Linked DNA regions of Homo sapiens. The protein of the gene in region 1 purifies or fractionates together with the protein of each later gene. This does not show direct contact. Each region holds a gene or a part of one and is shown in the gene's direction. Other genes may lie near its edges. The genes, in order: POLE4, MAP3K7, ZZZ3, NUP133, ISY1, ISY1-RAB43 and YEATS2.

Region 1 (3,500 bases):
GAGTACAGTGGTACGATCTCAGCTCATTGCAACCTCTGCCTCCTGGGTTCAAGTGATTCTCCTGCCTCAGCCTCTCGAGTAGCTGGGATTACAGGCTCGCACCACCACACCCCAATAATTTTTGTATTTTAGTAGAGATGGGGTTTTGCCATGTTGGTCAGGCTGGTCTTGAACTCCTGACCTCAGGTGTTCAAGGTCCACCCGCCTCAGCCTCCCAAAGTGTTGGGATTACAGGCGTGAGCCACCGCGCCTGGCCCACTTTTTATCTTATCTATTCTCTGGAAAACTTATTGAAAGATTGGAATTATTTTGTTTTTGAATATTTGATGGAATTCAGTGATGCTGTTAGAGGGGTTGCAATGCCAAATTTGGTTATTGTATAATTTAGATTTTCTGTGTTCTTACTGAATTTCTTCTGTCTGCTTATTTTACCTGTTTCAAAGAGTTATGTGTTAAAACTCTACTGCTATGATTATGGACTATTTCTACTTATATTTCTGGGTCTATTCTTTCATTATATATTATGAAACCATGTGATTAGATATATACAAATTTAATGTTGTTATATATTGTTGGTGATTGAGCCTTTTATATTTGTAAATTGGCTATTGTTATTTCTAACTGCTTTGAGCCCTAAAGTCTATTTTGTTTAATATTATTAAAGCTTATCAGCTTTCTTTAGTTAGTATTTATTTGCACGGTACGGATTTTTGTAAATCTTTTAATTTTTATCTTTCCATATATTTGTGAACAGAATTTAACTGGATTATTTTCCTAAATTCAGACAGTCTGTGTCTATAACTGGAGCACGTCATTTATTTATGTTTAATGTAATTGGTCATATCTATGAGTTTGAATTCTATTGTCTTATTTTGTCCTGCTTTTTATTTGCTTGTTTTATGTTTTGTTTTTTTTTTCTCTCAATTTTTGGCCTTCTTTTGGATTATTATTTGATTTTTTTCCCTCTATCAGCTTGGAAGTTATATGCTCTATTTCTATTCTTTTAGTGATTATCAGTTACTATGTAAGTCCTTAATTTATCAAAGCCTATTTAGTACCTTTCCCCTCATTCTCAACAAATTGAGATCTCAGGATCCATTAACTCAATTTTCAAATTCCTCGTCTCCTAATTTATGTGCTGTTATTGTCATGTATTTTTGTTTTGTCTTTGTCAATCTACATAAGGCATTTTTATTCCTGAATTATGCAGTCAATGATATATGGATTTAGTCACATACTACCTTTGCTTTTCTTTCCTTTCTGGATTATTATTATTTTTGAGACAGTTTCATTTCGTCACCCAGGCTGGAGTGCAGTGGTGCGATCTCAGCTCACTGCAACCTCTGCCTCCTGGGTTCAAGTGATTCTCATGTCTCAGCCTCCCAAGTAGCTGGAATTACAGGCATGCACCACCAAGCCTGGCTAGTTTTTTTTGTATTTTTAGTAGAGATGGGGTTTCACCATGTTGACCAGGCTAGTCTCAAACTCCTGACCTCAAGTCATCTGCCTGCCTTGGCCTCCCAAGTGCTGGGATTACAGGCGTGAGCTGCTGTGCTTGGCCTCCTTTCTGTATTTCCGATCCTCCATTTGTGATCATTTTCTTCTTCCTGAAATAAATCATTTAGAACTTCATTTAGTATGGTCTGGTAACTGACTCTCTCATTTTTTTCTTATGAAAATGCCTTGAATTTCATTGTTGGAGGATAATTTGTTGAATATAAATTCTAGGTGGAAAATTATTTTCTTTTAGCACATTGAAGCTATCATTTTACTGCTTTTTTTTTTGGCTTCTATGTTTTCTATAGAGAAATTACCTGTTTGTAATTCTTTTGAAGCTAGTTTATCCTTTTTGTTTTTTGTCTGCTTTTAAGATTTTCACTTTGATTTTCTGTGGTTTCACTCTGATGTACAGAGGTGTGGATTTCTTTTTATGTAGTTTGTTTGAGCTTCTTGAATCTATAGATTAATGTCTTTCATCTGTCCTGGAAAATTCTCAGCGAGTGTCTCTTCAGCTATTGGCTCTGCCTTGTTCTTTCCTGTGTCTCTCTCTGGGATTCCCATTAAATATATGTAAAAACTCAATCATAATTTTGCCTCTCTAGTATGCATTCTGTGTAATTTTTTCTGATCTTCCAGTTTATTCTCTCCATTTGTCTCATTTCCTTTAAACTATTTTTTTTGTTTTTTTTTTTTAGTTTCAGTTTTTGTATTTTTCAGTACTGTGAGTTCTGTTTGGTTCCTTTCCAAATCTGTTGTCTTTTTTTTTAGCTTAATAAAGTATCAAGCAATTTTTGTGAGTACTTTTTGTTGTTCTTATTTTCTGCAGGTATTTTGAAGTTTGTCTTTTAGTTCTGTAAACATAGTAAACACAGTTGTTTTATAGTGAATGTTCCATCCAATATATGACCTAATATTCAAAGCCTTTTGAGTTTTTTGTTTGCTAGTCTGTGCCGAATCTAACATCCATAGTCTCTTGAGACTGTCTTTTTGTCTGTTGTTTCTTTTGGTACTGTCACATGGCCTTTTATCCCCCTATATGCCTATCTTTGGATAATGGTTATTTTCTTTAAAAAGTATTTGTTAGATAAGTTGAGGCCATATGGTGATACTTTCTCCAAAGAAAATTTCCATTTGCTCCTGAAGCCACCTACAGCCATTATCAGTGCAGGACTTCTGAATCCAGATCTAAGACTTGAAGGTTTCTGGACTATCATACTGATATGAACTCAGGCTGCAGGCCTGTGAAGGGGCACTGATTAAATTCCAGTTCGTCCTTACTCTGAGGGGGCAGCCTTTTGGGCTCTAGCTTAAGAAAGATGGGTGTCAGACTTCCTTACTTGGGTAGACTCAGGGATTTGACTCTTGGTTCCTTCAGCCTACACAAATAACCGCCCAGTTTCTCAGCTTTTTCAGATTGGCAGATGTCATGAGAGCAGAAGTAACATTAGAGGCTGGGTTTGTTTTGTGTTCTTACTGTCTCTAGATTTCACATTTGCTTTTTCTTGATGTCTCTTCAATTCCTGAAGATTTCCTTTTCTTATATATTTTATTTAGCTTTCTCAGTTGATCTCAACAGGAACTTGCCATTATGAAAAGCACCTCTATTTTTTTTTAAATTAGAAGTGTTTTTGCTTTATTTTTCTTATGTTTTTATTTTCCCTATATTATCTAGGTCATTAAAAAAAGTTTTGGTATCCTTTCAACTGTGTAGCTTTCTTCAGATACCTGGTGATTTTCATTCTATTTAAGAATAAGGGAATAAGGCTGTTTGGTAACTGTGTGTGTGTGTATGGGATGAGGGGGTGGTTGTTGCCTGGCAGCTTTGCTTTAGGGTGAACAGGGGTGGGACCAGATGTTGTCCTGGGTGACCCCGAGGGTATGAATGCAGAATGCTTTGCTGTGGGAAGCTGGCAGTTTTAGAGGCTGTTCTAGTTTTCTCCATATAGTTCATTTGGTTCTTTAGAAGAGAGCCCTGTGATCTTTGTTTTTTTTTTTTTTCC
Region 2 (3,500 bases), on another chromosome or scaffold:
TAATTAGAAACTGTAAAAAAAATAATAATTCAACTACAGGCCAAATATGCAGCCATTTAGTAGATACATATTTCTAAGACATTAGCTGATCTTGCATTTCTAATATTGTAACTCAGTAGTATTAGTTTGGCACATCTTAGATTCAATTCAATTCAGTCAAATTAGGTAAGGTCTCAGCCTCAGAAATCTGCCTAGGTACTTTTTAAACATCATTTAGTGTTTACCATCTAGAACTGGCTGTAGAGAATGTTGGAATAAAAGAGGGGATGGGTTGCAAGAAGTGTTACACAGGGTAGTATAGTGGAAAGTGTTCTGGACTGAAAAAGAAAATTTAGATGCTGTACTGATTCTGCCATAATATATTTTTGTAACTTTGAGGAAGTCACCACATTTTTCTGGGCCTGTGGTTACTCATGTAAACTGACTGAACAAGATCATTTAAGGTCTTTTCCAGTTCTAAAATGAAAACACATTCATGTTTTCCAGTATTTAACTGTTTTCTATAGTAAGCTTAGCAGTTCTTTAAAGACTGATCATGGTCTCCTATAGAATTCAGTTGGTGACCAACTAATCCTGGGTTGACAGGGCAAATGATATCCCATTGTACAGATATTGACAAGCAGTCATAGAGTTTGACTTGCCAGAAGCCGCATGCCTAAGTAAATGGTAAAGCTGGGAATTGAATATGAGACTTCTCACTTGTGAGTCAGTTGCCCTTTCCACTGGATTTACAGTGTCACTCAGTACTTTCTGAAGTACTCTATAACCAAACCTAATATGGGAAAGGGGAAACAAAATACTGATTTCCTTTTTAGTGTAGTTGGTCCTGAGCATTTAATGAACATTCTCATCTGTGCGTAATACTCTGAGGTACTATAAAAGATAAATAGGGCTTGGTGCGGTGGCTCACACCTGTAATCCGAGCACTTTGGAGGGCCAGTGCGGGCAGATCACTTGAAGCCAGGAGTTCAAGACCACCCTGGCCAACACGGAGAAACCCCGTCACTACTGAAAGTACAAAAATTAGCTGGGTGTGGTGGCACAGGCCTGTAATCCCAGCTACTTGAGTGGCTGAGGCATGAGAATCGTTTGAACCCAGGAGGCAGAGGTTGCAGTGAGCTGAGATCATGCCACCGCACCCTAGCCTGGACAACAGAGGGAGACTCTGTCTCAAAAAAAAAAAAAAAAAAAAGATGATAGAAGAATCCTAGGATTACCTCCTTAAAATGTCTGACTTAGTATGATATCAGACTGGAGTAAACACAGAACAGTTAACTATAGACCACAAATTTAAAACTGAATATAGTGTAAATTAAACACTTAAGCCATAATTTGAAAATAGAGTTAATCACAGAAGGTTCCATTGAGTAGGGACAAGTTTAAAACTAGGTTTTGAATAAAGTGACCATCGTGGGTTGGGAAAGTCACTAAGATGAATTTTCTTTGTAGTTGTTCCTCTGCCTAAAGCGCTGTTCCCCCATAACTTAAGATGACTGACTCCTCACCAGTCAAGTCCCACCTCAAATGTTATTAACACTTCCTTAGAGAAGCATTCCCTGAACAACCTAGATCTTTTGTCATTTCTATTATCTTTCATGGTACTTACCAGTAACTGAAATTGTGTCTCTCCTTCAGCAAAATGTAAGGCGCTTTATTCACTTTTGTAACCCCAATGCCTAGAACCTAGAAGGTTCTCTATACATATTTGTTCAATGAGTACATGAAAGTATCACAGCATAATCATAAGAATTAAATGCCCATCTTGTTCTCTTATATTACATGTGATAAAATAGGAGCTGAGTTATGCGATTTGGCTAAGGCAACACGTTAGAAATGAGATCCGAGTCTTGTTTTAATGTCGACTCTATTATAGTTAGCAGATACTTTTGTTTAGCAGGGATAAAAAATGCTGTAAAGGGCCAGATGCTATGAGTAAGCCACGTATGGTAGGTCTTTACTACAGAGTGCTAAAAAGACACTATTTACAATGGTTGCTTTTGAAAAGGGAGACCCATAATGCTGACCTCAACTATAGTGTAGGAACAAAGCTATAGTATTGGACACATAAAATTACTGCAGCATTTGTATATATTCTTCAGCTTTGTTAAGGAGACACACAAAAGTTTTGTTTTAAAAGCTAAAATATGCTACAAAGAGGAGATATAGATAGAACTTAAACAGTTATATGTACTTTGTAGGTTTAAGTTATAAATATATGGGGAATTGGTATTAGAGAAAAACCTAATTTATAGTGGTCTAAACAAACTGAGTACATAGATTTGTTAGTCACTATTTAATTATGGATACCTAAAATAATCAATACATTCTTTCATGTGAAAGTGACCACTGATTTCAGTAGAAATCTGGAATTACTATAGTTAAGAGGTAGCTACAGAGATAATTTTTGCATTGTACACGTGTAGCTTAAAAGATAGCATGAGCATATTATTTGAAATAAAAGCCTAGAAAATGGGTGAGATGTACTGTGGCAGGTATTAAAAGACTGCATGAAACATTCAGAAGAAAGTTTGAATAATCAAAGCTTTACTTTTATGTTATCAAATCCATCTTGTCAGCAGATGGCAGTTCCACTCTGCCACAGTTTATTAATAGATATTGAAGTTCTAACATAGTTGGAGGCTCCAAGTCCTAACTAATAAATGTATGATCTATGCTTGTTCTGTCTTGTTCCGCATTTCCAGCCAGAACAATGCCAGCATCACCAGGGGTCCATTCAGATAGTTCATAGAACAGGGCCAAATGAAACTGACAGCTGTAGTCACTGAACTAAAAATAACATGAATTCAGAACAATTAAAAGAATTATTTAATAATAAATTAAGAGCACAAAGGCATACATCCTTTTCCATTTAGGTTAGGTGTGTGTTTGGTTGTTTTCTTTAACATGACTTGTCTGAAGGAATGGAGTCATCTTACATCATAAAGAAATTAATTTTTAAAGGAATTTCTTTAAAAATAACACACAAACACACAAAACCTGATTTTTGTTTTTGTGCCTTTCAATAGTAGTTGCATGGAAATGTTCTATATACCATCTCATATTCTTCTGTATTTTTTATTAAGAAATTAAATTTAAATCTACTTAATTGTATGAGACTAAAGTTGTAGACCCAAAACAAAGAGGTTTCAACCATAGGGGGAGAAATGCTTATCATAAAGTAATTAATCAAAAACATTTTGATTTAGAAAACATTCATAAATTTAGAAGGAAATATTTCCAAATTGACCTCCCTTTTAAAACCAAAGTCCTTTTTGCATTCCTCTGTTTTTTACAAATGAAGGATTATGAAGAATATCTGAAATATTTATTTGTATGTCACCATTTTAGTTGGATGTGTGTGATGGGGAAATACTTGTAACTTGATATGTTCTCTTTTTTACTCTTGATGAAAATTCATCTTTGGGGAAAAAACAGTCATTTAAAATAATGTTGGGCTAGGTACGGTGGCTCACACCTGTAATCCCAACACTTTGGGAGGC
Region 3 (3,500 bases), on another chromosome or scaffold:
TCTCACTTGAGTTTTTTCCTTAAGGTCTGACACCATGCCAATTTCCACAGACCTGTAACTTTAAGTTACCTTAAGCTGGGCCTGGTGGCTCACGCCTGTAATACAAGCACTTTGGGAGGCCGAGGTGGGAGGATTGCTTGAGACCAGCAACAACATAGTCAGACCACGTTTCTACCAAAAAAGAAAAAAAATTAGCCTGGTAGTGCACGCCTGTAGTACCAGCTACTTGGGAGGCTGAGAAGGGAGGATTGCTTGAACCCAGAAGGTTGAGACTGCAGTGAGCTGTGATTGCACCATTGCACTCCAGCCTGGGCAACAGAGTGAGTGAGACCCTGTGTCAAAAATAAAATAAAAACACCTAAATTTCATATGAAAATTCAGTTTGGAGTCACCTACAAGAAATAGTTGCTAGAAGAGTTTCATTTTTATAGTAGTATTTACTAGAGATTTGGTATATACTCTGGTGCAAATTTCTGTAGTTAATGCTCTGATAACCACTATAATTGTACTCTGAAAACCACTCTCAGTAAATATTTCCCAAAGTCCAAAGTCTTGATTATTTTGTTTGACCCTTTCGTTCTCACCTTTCTGTTTTTCTTTTCAGCTGATTTTTCTCATTTATGTAGGTAATTTTTGTCTTATTAGAGAGGAGTGAGTTGACTAACTTGCCTTGAGGAGAATATCACTTTGTGATTAATCAAACTATTCAGATATTATTATTACTGTTGTTTTGGAACTTCAGTATATTTGTAAGTTAGAGGCAGTAATTCAGCTGACATTTATTGCTAATGACCTCAGCCATTTGAAACATAACAGCAATCCTGGACATAAAAAAATCTCTAAGCCTTCAAAATGACTGCAACCAAGTATAATAAGCCATTAGCCTTTATTAGGAAACTACTAATTGGAATTAGTCCACAGATAAAAATCTTCAGTGTTGGCCATTGGAGTTAGGGACATTGGCAGCTGAAATGTCATCTACAGGGGAAAAGGAAGAACTATTAAAAAGTAGGTGGAACTATAGTAGAATAGTGTTTTAAGGCCATTACATAAATACATACACTCCTATAATCATTAACTTCTGAAGGAATGACAGTATCGTAGAGCAGCCTAGTAAGTTGATGCATCACAATGATAACTTTAATAATGAACTTTTATTCTGTGTACTATGTTTAAGGAAGTAAGAAATTGGTGTCTTTTGAGATTGCTATAAAAGTAACCATTTTCAAAACTCTGTTAATTAAATGTTAAGTTTCAATTTTCTGGAAAATTTACGTGTAGATCTCTCCTTATCAGATGACACCAAATAAAAATGGTGCTACTGTGTATGGAACTTCCTTTGTTTTATTATTTTAACCTATTTATCTTTCTACTTAATATTTCAAGGAATTACTCCCAAACAAGGCTCTATTACATTTAATATTTGATATCAGTAATGAACAACCAATTGCCTAAAGATTAGCACATTTGCTAATGGAGAAGATAGTAAAGCAGATAATTAGAATTAGTAAATGACCTATGCATATGATTCAGTTGTATAGTTTTGAATCCTGGTATTGAGTCTATTAGCCCAAGTGTCCTAAGGTGCCAGGTTTTTGTAGTGAGTTTTTTTCATTGCATTGCTGGCCTCCTCTGTCTCATTTACTATGTTAATTTAAACCTTATGCTTCCATTAGTGGTAAAGTAGATAGTCTTTGACTTGTGTATAAGGGGTGTGTATGTATTTTAATGATTTTGAAAGCTGGTTTGAGGAATTAGATTTTGGGAATTAATATAACAATTATTAGCATTTTGATATATTTCTTCCATTATTTTAATGTATATTTTTTATGTATTTGTGGGTAAAAACATTTAATTTCATGTCCTGCTTTTTAACCTACTGTTAGGTACCACTTTCCCATTCTCACAATGCATCTTAATAACTATCATTATAAATGATTGTAAAATGTTCTGTGCAGTGAACATATGTTATTCCCCTATGTGAAGAACATATTTATACATGTTTCTTGTATATAGTATTATCTCTCTCTTGTATATTGCCAGAATTGATTTTTTAGGTACATTTTGAAGGCTCTTAAAACATACTGAACAATATTAATCAAAAGGGATAAATTTGTATTCTCTTTCGAGTGGTTGTTACCCTATACTCATCAACATTTAACATTTTTTATAAAGGTTTAATGGGGGTGTATGACATATTGTGCTTTATTTATTTAATTACTGAGGTGAAGCATGTTTATAGATGTATTTATCTTGTGAACTTTGAAGATAAATAGATTTTAACATTATTGCAGTCAAACATCTTTTTGTTTGTTTGTTTTGAGACAGAATCTTGCTCTATTGCACAGGCTGGAGTGCAGTGGCACCATCTCGGCTCACTGCAGCCTCTACCCCCCGGGTTCAAGCAATTCTCCTGCCTCAGCCTCCTGAGTAGCTGGGACTACAGATGCACACCACCACGCCCGGCTAATTTTTGTATTTTTGTAGAGATGGGGTTTCACCATGTTAGTCAGGCTGGTCTGGAACTCCTGACCTGAGGTGATCCACTTACCTCGGCCTCCCAAAGTGCTGGATTACAGGGGTGAGCCACGGTGCCTGGCCCAAACATCTTGATATAATTTTGTTCTGCTGATTTTATGAAATTCCTCCCTTTTCAGAACTGTAATAAACAATATTGGTTTAATTCTGTTTGTTTAGTTTTTCTAAGTTAGATTTAAATAAATTTAAGTTTTTACCTCATCTGGCATTGGTGTGAAATGAGAATCTAAATGTTTTCCTCCAAATTGGTAATTTTCTCAACTCTGTTAAATAATGCTTTATTTAATTTTTTAATTTTTCTCATTTTTTTGTTATGCTTCATTTTTACATTTTAATCATTTTTATTTTAAATTGTTTATTTTTACCCCAAGCCTTAAGAACATTCATATTGTTTTTAGATGATTCTGTGATATGTTTAATATCTTTTGCCTTGGCTTTCTTATTGTGGTGTTTGTTTCCTTATTTATTTTTAAGATTACTGTAAGTTGAGGATAATAAAGTTTATTTTTTAACAAAACAATGTTTTATAATTCCTTTTCTTGTCAGCCAGAATTTGAAATAAGATTTTTCCATACCACATAATTTGGTTGCATTAAATGAAAATTTCCCCCTTTTTGAACAGAGATAAAATGTGAAACTACTTAAAAGTACTATGCTGGCCACAGTGGCTCATGCCTGTAATCCCAACACTTTGGGAAGCTGAGGTGGAAGGATCGCTTCAGCCCAGGATTTGGACACCAGTCTGGGCAACATAGTGTGACCTCGTCTCTACAAAAAATACACAAAATTAGCCTGGTGTGGTGGCGTGCGCCTGTACTTTCAGCTACTGTGGAGGATGAGGTGGAAGGATCACTTGACCCCAAAAGATTGAGGCTACAATGAGCCCAGATTGCGCCCCTACACTCCAGCCTGGGTGACACAGTGAGACCCTTGTCAAAAAACCCCCAACCAACAAGTACAGT
Region 4 (3,500 bases), on another chromosome or scaffold:
AAATTAAAAAAGCAAATTATAAGCAAGTCAACAAAATATATGTCTAATTGATGTTTATAAACTTACTCTGTCATGTTTTGTTAATCATCTCATGGGTAGTGTTCAGATTTTTACAAAGAGAATTGGTGAAATATTTTTATGAAATAATGTACAAAAATGAATTTAAAAAATCATACAAATATTTTTGTTTTACTTCTTGTTAAATGTAATCTTAAATTTAACTTTCAGTCTGAAGACCTGATTTTGTGTCAGTTGACGGTCCCAAACTTTTCAAACCAGACTGCCTATCTGTATAACGAAAGTGCTGTCTATGTGTGCTCCACAGGAACTGGGAAATTTTCTCTTCCCCAGGAGAAAATTGTCTTTAATGCACAAGGTACAGTAGCAGTTTTAGAAAGCATGATTGGTGAGCTCATTAGTCATTCTGAGTGCTTTTTTTCTCTTTCCCTGAATGTCACTTCAAGCATGCTGCTTTCAAATGTTTCTGAGACATTTCATACCACAACTACAGCAGCTGAAGCCATAACCCTACTAAGAAACCAAAAGGGTACTAGAATTTCCAAACTATTATATTTACAGACAAAGATAGTAACATTTGTTCCAGGAGAAGATGCCAAGAAGCAAAAAACTATTGCCAAGAGAAGTAATTGCTTATTCCTAGTTAGTAAAAGTGACATATTCTGAGTTGATGCTTTAACTTTTCCACACCCCTAGATAAGAAGAGCTTCAGGTGCTGGACTTATGCAGGGGGGCTGGTCAGGATTGAAGAAGAACCAAGCAGATACTTAGCTGAAGGGGTTGGGCAGAGGACAGAGTGCAGGTAGGCAACAGCATGGAACCCAGGTTTTCTAGTCCCAGCACAAGAACCTTGACAGAGGGTGGGTAGGATGTTACTAAGGTGCCAGGTAGGCTTAGACCTTTTTTTTTTTTTTTTTTTTCCAGTCCCCATTGACTGATGTGGTAAGTTAAAGTCAGAATTAAGAGAACTCCACAGGATTGAAAAAGCTCTTCTTCTGAGTTTTGCAGAAGGAATAATTTTCTTTTTTGGCTTACTAGACTGACTGCTGTCTGGCAAGGCTAGTTTTTATTGTCCTTAAAGCTGAAAGACACAGAGCCTGCTTCTTCAGATAGCAACCGGTTCTTAGCATTTGATTCTGGGATGTAAAGGATGAGTTCGAAGTAGGACTAATGTTGTAAAGGAAAAAATGTGCTTAATATATCATCAAGATGATTTTCTGCTTAGGGTGGTAGCTTTTACATAGCATTTTGTTGTTATTGTTAGATGTATTTGACTCTGTTTTCCTTTCTTTTAGGAGATAGTGTTTTAGGTGCTGGTGCCTGTGGTGGTGTTCCTATCATTTTTTCTAGAAACAGTGGACTGGTGTCTATTACTTCAAGGGAAAATGTGTCTATATTGGCAGAAGACTTGGAAGGGTCTTTAGCATCTTCAGTTGCTGGACCAAACAGTGAGGTAATGTGATTCGATAAGAATTTGAAGTTTTTATGTTATTTATTTTTTAGAGATAGTGTCTCACGCTGTCACCCAGGCTAGAGTGCAGTGGCACAGTCGTAGTTCATTGCAGCCCCAAACTCCTGGCCTCAAGCAATCCTCCTGCCTCAGACTTCCCAGTAGGTGCCTGGCTAATTTTTTGTTTTTTGGTTTGGTTTGGTTTTTGAGACAGAGTCTCACTCTGTTGCCCAGGCTAGAGTGCAGTGGCATAATCATAGCTCACTGCAGCCTCACCTCAACCTCCCGGGATCAAGCAGTCCTCCCCTCTTAACTTCCTAAATAGCTGGGACTACAGACATGCGCCATCTCACCTGGCTAATTTTTTATTTTTTGTAGAGACAGGATCTCCTTATGTTGCCTAGGCTGGTCTCAAACTCCTGGGCTCAAGAATCCTCCCGCCTCGGCCTCCCAAAGTGCTGGGATTACTGGCGTGGAGCCACCATGCCCAGCCTAATTTTTAGTTTTATCAGATTATTTTATACAAATGGTCTCAAAACTGAGACAGTTTTCAAAGACGTAATGATGCAGACATTAGTTCTTTTTATCTTCCTCATCCCTTCTGTCCTCTTTGCCTGGAGCAACTACATTTAAGCCTTTTAGTGATTTATTCTGGTATTTTTCTCCATATATCTAAGTAATGTACATATATTCCTGTCTCCTGATGCATCTGTTGATTTTCTACTACAGAAAATGAGGTTTTGGGTTACCTTATACTCCTTCCTCTGCCTTTATCATTCTAACATAAATTTTTTTCATTGTAATGACAATGTAAATATTGTTTATGGTTTGCTGATCCCAAATACTGATTACATGTCCTTTATTATAGAACTTTGTGTGACTCTTGGAGTGTATAATGACCTCGTTTTGTATTTTCTCACTTTCCTTTCATATGTGACTTAATCTTTTTACACACTCCAGGAGTTCTGTAGAGTGCCCCTCAATGTAGTTTTTCCCAAAGTCAAGTCTCCAGAAACCTTCCATCTGCACAGCTGTCATCCCAGAACTTCCCTTTTCTATTGTCCTCAAATCCTCAGGACCTGTCCTCTGCACCATGCATAGGTGGCCTCATCTCCTGTCAGCGGGGCCATTTCCCATTCCTTCTGCTTTCTATCTTCCTTTGTTGTAGTTAGTATCACAGATATTTCCAAGGAGCTTGTATTTCTGTTTCTTTTTATTCTGGGATGATTTTTTGAGAGGAATAGCCAGGTAAAAATTACCAATTTTATTCTGTTGTCTTGAAACCTGAAATATCCTATCCATAAGATTTTTATCATTCTTTTACAGAAGACTAAAAATAATTAATACTGTTTGGGGTAATTTCCATTTGAATAGTGTATGAAATATATAGACTACCTCTGTAATTCAAATTAAAGTGATTAAGTGTAGTTTTAAAGGAAAGAAACAATTTTTAACTTTTTTTTCTTTTCACAAAAGGGATTAATACCTTGCATTTTGTATTTTGTAATTATACAAAATTATACAAAGTACAAAATACCTTGTATTTTGTAATTAATACGATTACAAAAAAGGATTAATATCTATTTTGTAATTGTATGGTTATTATAATACTGTTATACATTCTGAAGCAATTTTATAGTATTCCATTTCTTTAAAATTTTTCTAAACCGTTGTTTAAATTTGTAATCAACCATTATGCTTAGGTAGTATACACTGTGATGAGTCGTGTAAGAGCAAACCTATAAAAAGATTCTGTTAATTATGATGAAATGTCCAAATTATTTTACTTACAACATAATCCCTGAATTACCTGTACCTTTTCTGTATGACTTTGGTTGATCATTTGATGCTATTTATAGTGTTTCAATAAGTATATGAATAATTGGTATGGACCAAGCTTGTCCAACCCACAACCCATGGGCTGCATGCGGCCCAGGATGGCTTTGAATGCAGCCCAACACAAATTCGTAAACTTGCTTGAAACATAAATTTTTTTTTTTTTAACTCATCAGCTATCATTAATGTTAGTGTA
Region 5 (3,500 bases), on another chromosome or scaffold:
AATTAGCTGGGCATGGTGGCGGGCACCTGTAATCCCAGCTACTTGGGAGGCTGAGGCAGGAGAATGGCGTGAACCCAGGAGGCGGAGCTTGCAGTGAACTGAGATCGCGCCATTGCACTCCAGCCTGGGCAACAGAGTGAGGCTCTGTCTAAAAAAATAAAATTAAAAAATAAAAAATAAAAAAAAAAAGAAGAAGAAAATACAAAATTAGCTGGGCATGGTGGCAGGTGCCTATAATCCCAGCTACTCGGGAGACTAAGGCAGGAGAATGGCGTGAACCCAGGAGGCGGAGCTTGCAGTGAGCTGAGATCACGCCATTGCACTCCAGCCTGGGTGACAGAGCGAGGCTCTGTCTTTAAAAAAAAAAAAAAAGAAGAAGAAGAAAATACAAAATTAGCCGGGCGTGGTGGTGCGTGCCTGTAATTCCAGCTACTCAGGAGGCTGAGGCAGGAGAATTGCTTGAACCCAGGAGGCGGAGGTTGTGGTGAGCTGAGATTGCGCCATTGCACTCCAGCCTGAGCAACAAGAGCGAGACTCCGTCCCACAAAAAAAAGAAAAAAACATGCTGGGATTACAGGCATGAGTCACTGCACCTGGCCAGCTTTTATTCTTTCACCAATCTGGTTGGTTGTCATTTTGTTTTTCATTTTTAATAATTACTTAGCCGGGTGCAGTGGCTCACACCTATAATCTTAGCACTTTGGGAAGCCTAAGCGGGTGGATCACCTGAGGTCAGGAGTTCGAGACTTGCCTGGCCAACATGGTGAAACCCCATCTCTACTAAAAATACAAAAATTAGCTGGGTGTGGTGGCGGGTGCTTGTAATCCCAGCTACTCGGGAGGCTGAGGCAGGAGAATCGCTTGAACCCGGGATGCAGAGGTTGCAGTGAGCCAAGATCATGCCATTGCACTCCAGCCTGGACAAGAGCGAAATTCCATCTCAAAAAAAAAAAAGAATTACTTAAATATTCTGGATTGTAGTCCTAGTCTGAAAATATCTTCTTTAGGGCTTTCTCATGTATCTTTTTTGTTTGTTTCTAGCTTCTTTTGTCTTTTTTATTTACTTATGTTTCCTGTCATGCTTTTTCATTAAACATTATGACAGTTCCTGTGTTATTAAAATACTTTGTGAAATAGCATTACAGGGGCTGCAGGATATCCCATCCCATACATATTCTGCAATTTACAATCATAGGTTATTCCCAAGTTTTCTCTATTATATAAATAATACTGTGATGCATATTTCTGTACATGAAGCTTTTTGCTATCTCGTGTTTGGTTTTTGTTTTTTTTTTTTTGAGATGGAGTCTCGCTCTGTCGCCCAGGCTGCAGTGCAGTGGTGCAGTCTTCGCTCACTGCAACCTCTGTCCCCTGGGTTCAAGCGATTCTCCTGCCTCAGCCTCAGGAGTAGCTGGGATTACAGGGGCCCCCACCACCATGCCTGGCTAATTTTTGTATTTTTAGTAGAGATGGGGTTTCACCATATTGGCCACGCTGGTCTTGAACTGCTGACCTCGTGATTCTCCCGCCTCGGCCTCCCAAAGTGCTGGGATTACAGGCATGAGTCACCGCACCCGGCCTGGTTTTGTTTTTTACTTAGGTAGATTGCTTTTAAACGGACAAATGGGTCCAAGTACTGATTTTAAAAAGGGCTCTACCACTTAAATAATTCCATGAATAGTATAGAAAAGTGTCTATCCATGGTATTTTCTTTTTCTGTGTGATGGAGTCTTGTTTTGTCGCCCAGGCTGGAGTGCAGTGGCGTGATCTCGGCTCACTGCAAACTCTGCCTCCTAGGTTCAAGCGATTCTCCTGCCACAGCCTGAGTAGCTGGGATTACAGGTGCGCACCACCACGCCCGGCTAATTTTTGTATTTTTAGTAGAGACGAGGTTTCACCATGTTGGTCAGGCTGGTCTCGAACTCCTGACCTTGTGAGCCACCTGTCTGGGCCTCCCAAAGCGCTAGGATTACAAGCATGAGCCACTGCGCCCACCTGGTATTTTCATGAACATACGTGCCACGTGTGTGTATAGCGTTGCATCAGGAGACAGCTTCGCTGGAGTGTGATTATGACTTGGAAACTCAGCTCCATTTCTGTTTCTTATAGCTCTTCCTCCTCCCAGAAAGACACGTGCTGAGCTCATGAAGGCAATCGATTTTGAGTACTATGGTTACCTAGATGAAGATGATGGTGTTATTGTGCCTTTGGAACAGGAATATGAAAAGAAACGTAGGTCTCTGGGCATTTTATTTCATAATAGATGGCATCTGTTTTCTGTTGTGTCCTTTGAAAACAGGATTTTCAATAGTGCTTTATGCCAGAAGGGAGTTTTCTTTGTTGCTAATGATCTTCAGGCGTGATGGTCTGCTAATTCCCTGACCCCTGTGAGGCAGTCAAAGCTGTGTGGGCCAGAGGTAACAGGTTGGGGAAGCCATGAGAGCCACGTCTGACCGGTCCCTGTCTGCTAGGAGGTCACCATGTGGATTCGTGCTAATACCAGTGCCCATGTGACACATCAGGCCAGGACTTTGGAAGCAAGTGGTCTGGAGCTGGAGCTGCTTTCTAGCATGCTCTGCCCCTGCCTTCTCTCTTTTCATGTGGACATGTTGGGAATCCACTCAGGTTGTGGAAGTGGGGAGGATTTGGGAATGTTCCCTAAAAAGCTGCTTTGTAGTGACTGAAGGCCAGAGCTGTTGTAGGACTACCATGCTTCACATCCATTTCCACCCACGGGGGCAGAATGAAGGGTGTCCCTTTCTAGAGGGGATGTCTAGACTTTCCCTGCATAGTGTTGGCCTTTCCCTGCATAGTGTTGAAAGCTCATTTAGAGACAAATAAATAGCACCTACCCTCTCTTGTGTTCAGTCAGAGCCGAGTTAGTGGAAAAGTGGAAAGCAGAGAGAGAGGCTCGGCTGGCAAGAGGAGAAAAGGAAGAGGAGGAGGAAGAGGAGGAAGAGATCAACATCTATGCAGTCACCGAGGAGGAGGTATTGGGGTTGGCCCCCTCTGGCACTCACTGCCATCTGTTCCAAGCCATGAAGTGTGGCAGGGAGGAAACTTGGCTCCCAAATACAGAGTCAGGGTTCACAGCCCAGCTTGCTCACCTGCAGGATGGCTGTGAAAACACTTGCGAGATTACAGGAGGGTTTCAGGAGGCAGCAGCCATGAGAGTGCCCTGCCGGCCGTGCTTTACACCAGGGCTTCCTTCTTTCCTTCTTAAAGACAGGCCCTTCTGCATACACTAGAATTAGACTGATAAACACAGAGGAAGCCATGAGCTTTAGCCCATGACCTCATCACTTCTGTTCACGTGTCAGTGGCAGTTGCTCTTCTGTAGTCTAACACCCCCATCTTTTTTATTTTTTTTGAAACGGAATCTGGCTCTGTTGCCCAGGCTGGAGTGCAGTGGCACAATCTTGGCTCACTGCAACCTCTGCCTTCCGGGTTCAAGCAATTCTTCTGCCTCAACCTCCCAAGTAGCTGGGACTACAGGCGAG
Region 6 (3,500 bases), on another chromosome or scaffold:
GCTCCTTCCTGTCGGTGCCTCACTGGATTGAGGATGTGAGGAAGTATGCGGGCTCCAACATTGTGCAGCTGCTGATCGGTGAGTTGGGGATTCCTCGGGACCACAAATCCCATCACTCTGCCTGTCCATGCCTCCCTCTGCTTTTTAAACACAGTGTAACCCTGAGTTCAGAGGGAGTCCCAGCCAGAGTTTGAGCCATGGTTTTGCAAATCCTGATCCTGCTAATCACTTAGAAAGTTACATTCAAGGCCGGGCACGGTGGCTCACGCCTGTAGTCCCAGCACTTTGGGAGGCTGAGGCGGGCGGATCACAAGGTCAGGAGATCGAGATCATCCTGGCTAACACAGTGAAACCTCGTCTCTACTAAAAAAATAAAAAAAAATTAGCCGGTTGTGGTGGCAGGCGCCTGTAGTCCCAGCTGCTGGGGAGGCTGAGGCAGGAGAATGGCATGAACCTGGGAGGCGGAGCTTGCAGTGAGCTGAGATCACGCCACTGCACTCCAACCTGGGTGACAGAGCAAGATTCGTCTCAAAAAAAAAAAAAAAAAAAAAAAAAAAAGAAAGTTATATTCAAAATTGGAATTAGAGGAAAGAAGAAAGAGAGCTGAAGTTTGCTCTGCTGTTCTTCACATGTGTCAAGATTTAGCTCTTGTACCCCGGCTTCTCCTCATTTGACAGGGGCTGGGGCTAGGCTCAGAAAAGTGCAGTGATTTATCCGGGTCCACATGGCCTGTGAGCATACACATGTAGGCTTTGAGTTTGCTTCTGCTGACCTCAAGTCTGTGGCTTTCTCTGTTGTGCCGCACACAGAGCAGGGACACTTGATGGCTTCCGTGCCTCAGAATCCCACAGAAGTCTTCTTCAAGTGCAGCTGCAGGGCCTCAACCTCCAGAGCATCTGATCCAGGCGGGCTGGGTGGGGCCCATGAATGTGCGTTTCTAACAAATTCCCAAGTGACACCCACCTTGCTGGTCCAAGGATCCCACTTTGAGAACTGCTGCTGTGGAAGGATGCTGTTTACCTTTGTTTTCCTTCTATATAACCTTCCCAGACCTGGACTGGAGAAGCTCTTTAGCTCTTATGTTATCCCTGGGGTCCTCACCCCAACAGGTTGATTCTTTTTTTTGAGACAGAGTCTTACTCAGTCACCCAGGCTGGAGTGCCGTGGCGTGATCTTGGTTCTGCAAGATCTGCAAAACCACTGCAACCTCTGTCTCCCTGGTTCAAGCGATTCTCCTGCTTCAGCCTCCCGAGTAGCTGGGCCAACAGGTTGATTCTTCTGACTCAAATGTACAGACAGGGCCTGGACCTGACTCCAGCCAGGAAGAGGGTGGTGCCTGGTTCCATGTGGCCTGCCTTCCACAGCCTGTTCAGACTAGGACATGGAGTGCTTGGCATGAACAGAGCTTTCCTCACGTAGCCTAACCATTTCCCCACCTTTTCTTGCTGGGGGTGGGGGACGGAGTCTCGCTCTGTCGCCAGGCTGGAGTGCAGTGGCACGATCTTGGCTTACTGCAACCTCCGCCTCCCGGGTTCAAGCAATTCTCCTGCCTCAGCCTCCTGAGTAGCTGGGACTACAGGCACGCACCACCACACCTGGCTAACTTTTGTATTTTTAGTAGAGACTGGGTTTCACCATGTTGGCCAGGATGGTCTCGATCTCCTGACCTCGTGATCCACCCGTCTCGACCTCTAAAAGTGCTGGGATTACAGGTGTGAGCCACCACACCCAGCCACCAATTCCCATTTATCCAGGACATTTCTGAAAAACATTCCAGCCTGGCATGGTGGCTCACACCTGTAATCCTAACACTGAGAGGCTGAGGTGGGTGGATTGCCTGAGTTCAGGAGTTCAAGACCAGCCTGGGCAACATGGTGAAACCCCATCTCTACTAAAAATACAAAAATTAGCCAGGCATGGTGGCACACACCTGTAATCCCAGCTACTGCGGAGGCCAAGGTAGGAGAATCGCTTGAACCTGGGAGGCGGAGATTGTAGTGAGCCGAGATCGTGCCACTGTCCTCCAGCCTATGCGACAGAGTAAGACTCTGTCTTCCAAAAAATAATTAATTAAAAAACATTCTATTATAGAACTTTTTTTTTTTTTTGAGACAGAGTCTCACCCTGTCGCCCAGACTGGAGTGCAGTGGCGCGATCTCGGCTCATGGCAAGCTCTGCCTCCTGGGTTCACACCATTCTCCTGCCTCAGCCTCCCGAGTAGCTGGGACCACAGGCGCCCGCCACCATGCCTGGCTAATTTTTTGTATTTTTAGTAGAGACGGGGTTTCACCATGTTAGCCAGGATGGTCTCGATTTCCTGACCTCGTGATCCACCCGCCTCAGCCTCCCAAAGTGCTGGGATTACAGGCGTGAGCCACCGCGCCCGGCCTATAGAACATTTTATACAGCTATGAAAATAGTATTTTATCTATTTATTTATGCATACTTATATACATACATATATTTTTAGAGATGCAGTCCTGCTATGTTGCCCAGGCTGATCTTGAACTCCTGGCCTCAAGCAATCCTCCTGCCTCAACCTCCAAGTAGTTGGAATTACAGGTGTGAGCCACTATATCTGGCTTAGAATAGTATAATAATGAGCCCCCAGGTACCCATTACCCTGCTTCAGCAATTAGCAACTGAAGTCCAACCTCCTCTCATCTGTACCATGTCACCTCCCCTCCCTCGGATTATTGAGACAAATTCACATCAAACCATTTCACCTGGCAGTATTCCAGCATGAACCTACAAAATATTTAAACACTTAAAAACAGCAATATTATTTTCTCATCTAAAAATACTGACATTTCCTTAATAATATAAAATAGCCAGTCTGTATTCAGATTTATAATTGCCCATAAAATTCATATGTGTTTTATTTTTTCCAGTTTGTTGAGATCAGGATCCAAATAAGTTTCACACTTTGAAACTGGTTGCTACATCAATTAAGGTTACCAAGGAAATTTTAGATCTTTACAGACTTTTTTTTTTTTTTTTTTTTTATGACGGAGTTTCGCTCTTGTTGCCCAGGCTGGAGTACAGTGGCACAATCTCGGCTCACTGCAACCTCCGCTTGCCACTCCTGCCTCAGGCACCCGAGTAGCTGGGATTACAGGCCCCCGCCACCACGCCTAGCTAATTTTTTGTATTTTTTTTAAGTAGAGACGGGGTTTCATCATGTTGGCCAGGCTGGTCTTGAACTTCCAACCTCAGGTGATCCACCCACCTCGGCCTTCCCAAATGCTGGGATTACAAGCATGAGCCACTGCGCTTGGCCCAGACTCTTTTTTTTTTTGTCTTCCTTATAACCACATTACAAAAGTCAACCATGTAGAGACTTTTAAAAAATTATTCTAGAAATTGGGTCAAGGAGCAATTTAACAGATTGTTTGGAATGTAATGAAGTCATCTCATACCATCTAGGAGGATCTGGGTAAATTGAGACGGGGTCTCACTGTGTTGCCCAGGCTGGTCTTGAATTCCTGGGCTCAAGCAGT
Region 7 (3,500 bases), on another chromosome or scaffold:
TCCAGTTATGATGCATTATGCTTTTAATACCCTGCTGGATTGGATTTGTATGTGTATTTGCAGTGAAAGCTTGTTTGCCATTTTCCTCTGATGGTGACTTTTGACCACATTTCCATAGGTTTGGAGATACTGTGTTCTCGTTAGTTTTTAAATAGTCTGTTACTTTAGTTTTAATTTCTTCTTTGAGTCATGAGTTATTAGAAGAGTGTCTTATTTTCCATATCATGGTGAGCTAATATTAATTTTTATTAAGATCAGAATGTGGCTGTAATATTTCTACATTTTGCAGTAATTTGAGACTTTCTTCATATCTTACTGTATGATTTACATTTTATGAACTTTTTTTTTTTTGAGACAGAGTCTCACTCTGTTGCCCAGGCTGGAGTGCAGTGGCGTGATTTCGGCTCACTGCAACCTCCACTTCCTGGGTTCAGCAGTTCTCCTGCCTCAGCCTCCCAAGTAGCTGGGATTACAGGTATCCACAACTATGCCCAGCTAATTTTTGTATTTTTAGTAGAGACGGGGTTTTACCACATTGGCCAGGCTAGTTTCAAACTCCTGTCCTCAAGTGATCCACCCACCTTGGACTCCCAAAATGCTGGGATTACAGGCATGAGCCACTGCATCCGACCTTAATGAACTTTTATAGATATTTTTAAAAGATTTTTTTCTGTTGGGTTCAGAGTTGTGTGTATTTGTTAATTCTGGCTTGTTAATTACCAGATATATATCTATATCATCTTTTTTGTTTGTTGTGTTTGTTTTGTTTGAGACGGGGTCTGGCTCTGTCACCCAGGCTGGAGGTGCAACGGCGCGATCTCAGCTTAACTGCAGGCTCCATCTCCTGGGCTCAAGCAATCCTCCTACCTCAGCTGCCCAAGTAGCTGGGAGTACAGGTGCTTGCCACTACTCCTAACTAATTTTTGTATTGTTTGTAGAGACAGGGTTTCACTGTGTTGCCCAGGGTGGTCTTGAACTCCTGAGCTCAAGCGAGTCACCTGCCTCAACTTCCCAAACTGCTGGGATTACAAGCGTGAGCCACCACGCCCGGCCTATCATCTGTATTTTTATAAATTGTCTTAATCTTTTAAATTTTATATAGAGATGTGTGATTTCTTAAACTTTCCTTTTTCTGTTTGTTGTATGTATTTTGATACTATATTGTTGGATGTATAGTTTAAGATGTATTTTTGTGATTGTGCCTTTAATAACATCATCTTTATCATGTTATTTTTTTTGCCTTGAATTCTATTATTAATATTGCCTTGCTTACTGTCTTTTTGTTTGCATGTGTCTGTGTATAATAACTTTGTACATTCTTTTAAACATTTAGCTAAAGAGCCTTTAAAGATGTAGCAATATCAACAAATAGATTAATGATGAAAACTAATGTAAGGTAGTAGTTATGTTCCCTGTGGTCATTTATATTTTGGCAGATATTTTAGTTAATCCTTCATTTATGGCTGGGCGCAGTGGCTCACGCCTCTAATCCCAGCACTTTGGGAGGCCGGGGCAGGCAGATCACGAGTTGAGGAGATCGAGACCATCCTGGCTAACATGGTGGAACTCCATCTTTAGTAAAAATGCAAAAAAATTAGCCAGGCATGGTGGCGGGCGCCTGTAGTCCCAGCTACTCGGGAGGCTGAGGCAGGAGAATGGCCTGACCCGGGAGGCGGAGCTTGTAGTGAGCCAAGATCGCACCACTGCACTCCATCCTGGGTGACAGAGCAAGACTGTTTCAAAAAAAAAAAAAAAATCCTTCATTTATTTTTCCAGATAGTAATATTGAGCACTTCCAGGAACTTTGGAGGGAGAAGGTAGGGAGAGCTGTGTTGGATGGGGCACGGTCAAGGAAGGCCCCTGATAAGGGGGAGATTTCAGCTGGAATCTGATTAAGCTAACCTAAGAAAAGAGCATTCCAGATAGAAGGAGCCATGATTCCAAAAGCTCAAAGGAAAATTGGGAGTATATTTGAGGGATAGAAAACCAACCTGTCTGGATCTTAAAGATTAAGGATGGAGAGGGAGACAGGGCGCAGTTCACATCTCTTAGGTCATGTTAAGGAATGGAAATTTGTTCTAAATGTTATGAAAAGCTATTTGAAGGATTCAAGCAGGGGATGACATGATCAGAAAAATATTCTTATTGTCCTTTTCTAAAGTGAGGTATAGTTTACAGACAGTGAAATACAGATTTTGCGTGTACAGTTGGGTGTTTTTGCAATTGGATATACATACCCATCTAACCTACACTCTTATTAAGATTAGTGGAGCACTGTGGGAGGCCAAGACGGGCAGATCACCTGAGATCGGGAGTTCGAGACCAGCATGACCAACATGGAGAAACCCCGTCTCTACTAAAAATACAAAATTAGCCCGGCGCGGTGGCGCATACTTGTAATCCCAGCTACCCAGGAGGCTGAGGCAGGAGAATCGCTTGAACCCGGGAGGCGGAGGTTGCCGCGAGCTGAGATTGTGCCATTGCACTCCAGCCTGGACAACAAGAGCGAAACTCTGTCTCAAAAAAAAAAAAGTTAGGTGGAGCATTGGTAATCCAAAAATCTGAATCTTAAATGCTCCAAAATCTGAAACTTCTTAAGCACCAACATGATGCCACAGTGGAAAATTTCACACCTGACCTTGTGACTGGTCAGTTAAAACATAGTCAAAACTTTGTGTTATGTTTTGAATTATTTAAAATGTTGTATAAAATTACCTTCAGGCTCTGTGTGTAAGATATTTATGAAGCGTAAATGAATTTCATGTTTAGATTTGGGTTCCTTCCCAAAGATATCTTACTATGTATATGCAAATATTCCAAAATCCAAAACAGTATGAAATCTGAAACAGTTCTGGTCCCAGGCATCTTGGGTAAGGAATACTCAACCTGAATAAAATATTTCTAAGAAAAAAGTCTTCATTCCTCTTCCCAGTCAGTCCCTAACACCAGCACCTCCAACTATGATTCTCATTTCTTTCACTATAGATTAATTTGTCTCTTCTAGAACTTAAGTGGGATAATTTAGCTTGTACTCTTGTGTTTGCCTTCTTTGGCTTGCCATAATGATTTTGAGGTTCATTTCTGTTGTTGCCTGCATCAAGAGTTCATTGAGTATACCACGATTTGTTCGTCCATTCCTCTGGTTTGGACTTTTGAGACATTTTTGAAATGTCATTGGCTAATGGAAAATGGATTGTAGAGTCTTATTCAGATATTTAATAAAGGAACACTGGTTGTCTTGTTTACAAAAGAGAATGTATTTTCTTTTAAGACTGTAGAAAGGACAGGGCCAGGAACTATGAAATCATTATCAGCATCTTAGGAATGCCTGTCTGTATGGAAGCAGATAGAAAATGATTGTACTACTCCCCTTCCCCACCTATTTTTTTTTTTTTTTTTTTTTTTGAGACGAAGTCTCACTCTGTCACCCAGGCTGGAGTGCAGTGGCGCAATCTCGGATCACTGCAACCTCTGCCTCCCGGGTTCAAGCAATTCTCCTG

The links.
Region 2: the proteins of POLE4 (region 1) and MAP3K7 fractionate together in Homo sapiens (co-fractionation; one large-scale study listed by BioGRID). This does not show direct contact.
Region 3: the proteins of POLE4 (region 1) and ZZZ3 purify together in Homo sapiens (affinity purification with mass spectrometry; one large-scale study listed by BioGRID and IntAct). This does not show direct contact.
Region 4: the proteins of POLE4 (region 1) and NUP133 fractionate together in Homo sapiens (co-fractionation; one large-scale study listed by BioGRID). This does not show direct contact.
Region 5: the proteins of POLE4 (region 1) and ISY1 fractionate together in Homo sapiens (co-fractionation; one large-scale study listed by BioGRID). This does not show direct contact.
Region 6: the proteins of POLE4 (region 1) and ISY1-RAB43 fractionate together in Homo sapiens (co-fractionation; one large-scale study listed by BioGRID). This does not show direct contact.
Region 7: the proteins of POLE4 (region 1) and YEATS2 purify together in Homo sapiens (affinity purification with mass spectrometry; 2 studies listed by BioGRID and IntAct, with this or other methods). This does not show direct contact.

The regions. Positions count from the first base shown.
Region 1 is NC_000002.12:74,965,143-74,968,642, forward strand, and holds part of POLE4 (DNA polymerase epsilon subunit 4), read left to right. Parts: intron 1-3,500. UniProt on the Homo sapiens protein: Accessory component of the DNA polymerase epsilon complex. Participates in DNA repair and in chromosomal DNA replication.
Region 2 is NC_000006.12:90,580,573-90,584,072, reverse strand, and holds part of MAP3K7 (mitogen-activated protein kinase kinase kinase 7), read left to right. Parts: intron 1-3,500. UniProt on the Homo sapiens protein: Serine/threonine kinase which acts as an essential component of the MAP kinase signal transduction pathway. Plays an important role in the cascades of cellular responses evoked by changes in the environment.
Region 3 is NC_000001.11:77,676,159-77,679,658, reverse strand, and holds part of ZZZ3 (ZZ-type zinc finger-containing protein 3), read left to right. Parts: intron 1-3,500.
Region 4 is NC_000001.11:229,484,342-229,487,841, reverse strand, and holds part of NUP133 (nuclear pore complex protein Nup133), read left to right. Parts: intron 1-228; coding exon 229-376; intron 377-1,313; coding exon 1,314-1,471; intron 1,472-3,500. UniProt on the Homo sapiens protein: Involved in poly(A)+ RNA transport. Involved in nephrogenesis.
Region 5 is NC_000003.12:129,133,564-129,137,063, reverse strand, and holds part of ISY1 (pre-mRNA-splicing factor ISY1 homolog), read left to right. Parts: intron 1-2,109; coding exon 2,110-2,232; intron 2,233-2,868; coding exon 2,869-2,990; intron 2,991-3,500. Other genes in the region: ISY1-RAB43 protein, read left to right, coding at 2,110-2,232, 2,869-2,990. UniProt on the Homo sapiens protein: Component of the spliceosome C complex required for the selective processing of microRNAs during embryonic stem cell differentiation. Required for the biogenesis of all miRNAs from the pri-miR-17-92 primary transcript except miR-92a.
Region 6 is NC_000003.12:129,091,564-129,095,063, reverse strand, and holds part of ISY1-RAB43 (ISY1-RAB43 protein), read left to right. Parts: coding exon 1-39; coding exon of another isoform or gene 40-78; intron 79-2,470; coding exon of another isoform or gene 2,471-2,550; exon of another isoform or gene 2,551-2,564; intron 2,565-3,500. Other genes in the region: RAB43 (ras-related protein Rab-43), read left to right, coding at 1-78. UniProt on the Homo sapiens protein: Component of the spliceosome C complex required for the selective processing of microRNAs during embryonic stem cell differentiation. Required for the biogenesis of all miRNAs from the pri-miR-17-92 primary transcript except miR-92a.
Region 7 is NC_000003.12:183,704,297-183,707,796, forward strand, and holds part of YEATS2 (YEATS domain-containing protein 2), read left to right. Parts: intron 1-3,500. UniProt on the Homo sapiens protein: Chromatin reader component of the ATAC complex, a complex with histone acetyltransferase activity on histones H3 and H4. YEATS2 specifically recognizes and binds histone H3 crotonylated at 'Lys-27' (H3K27cr).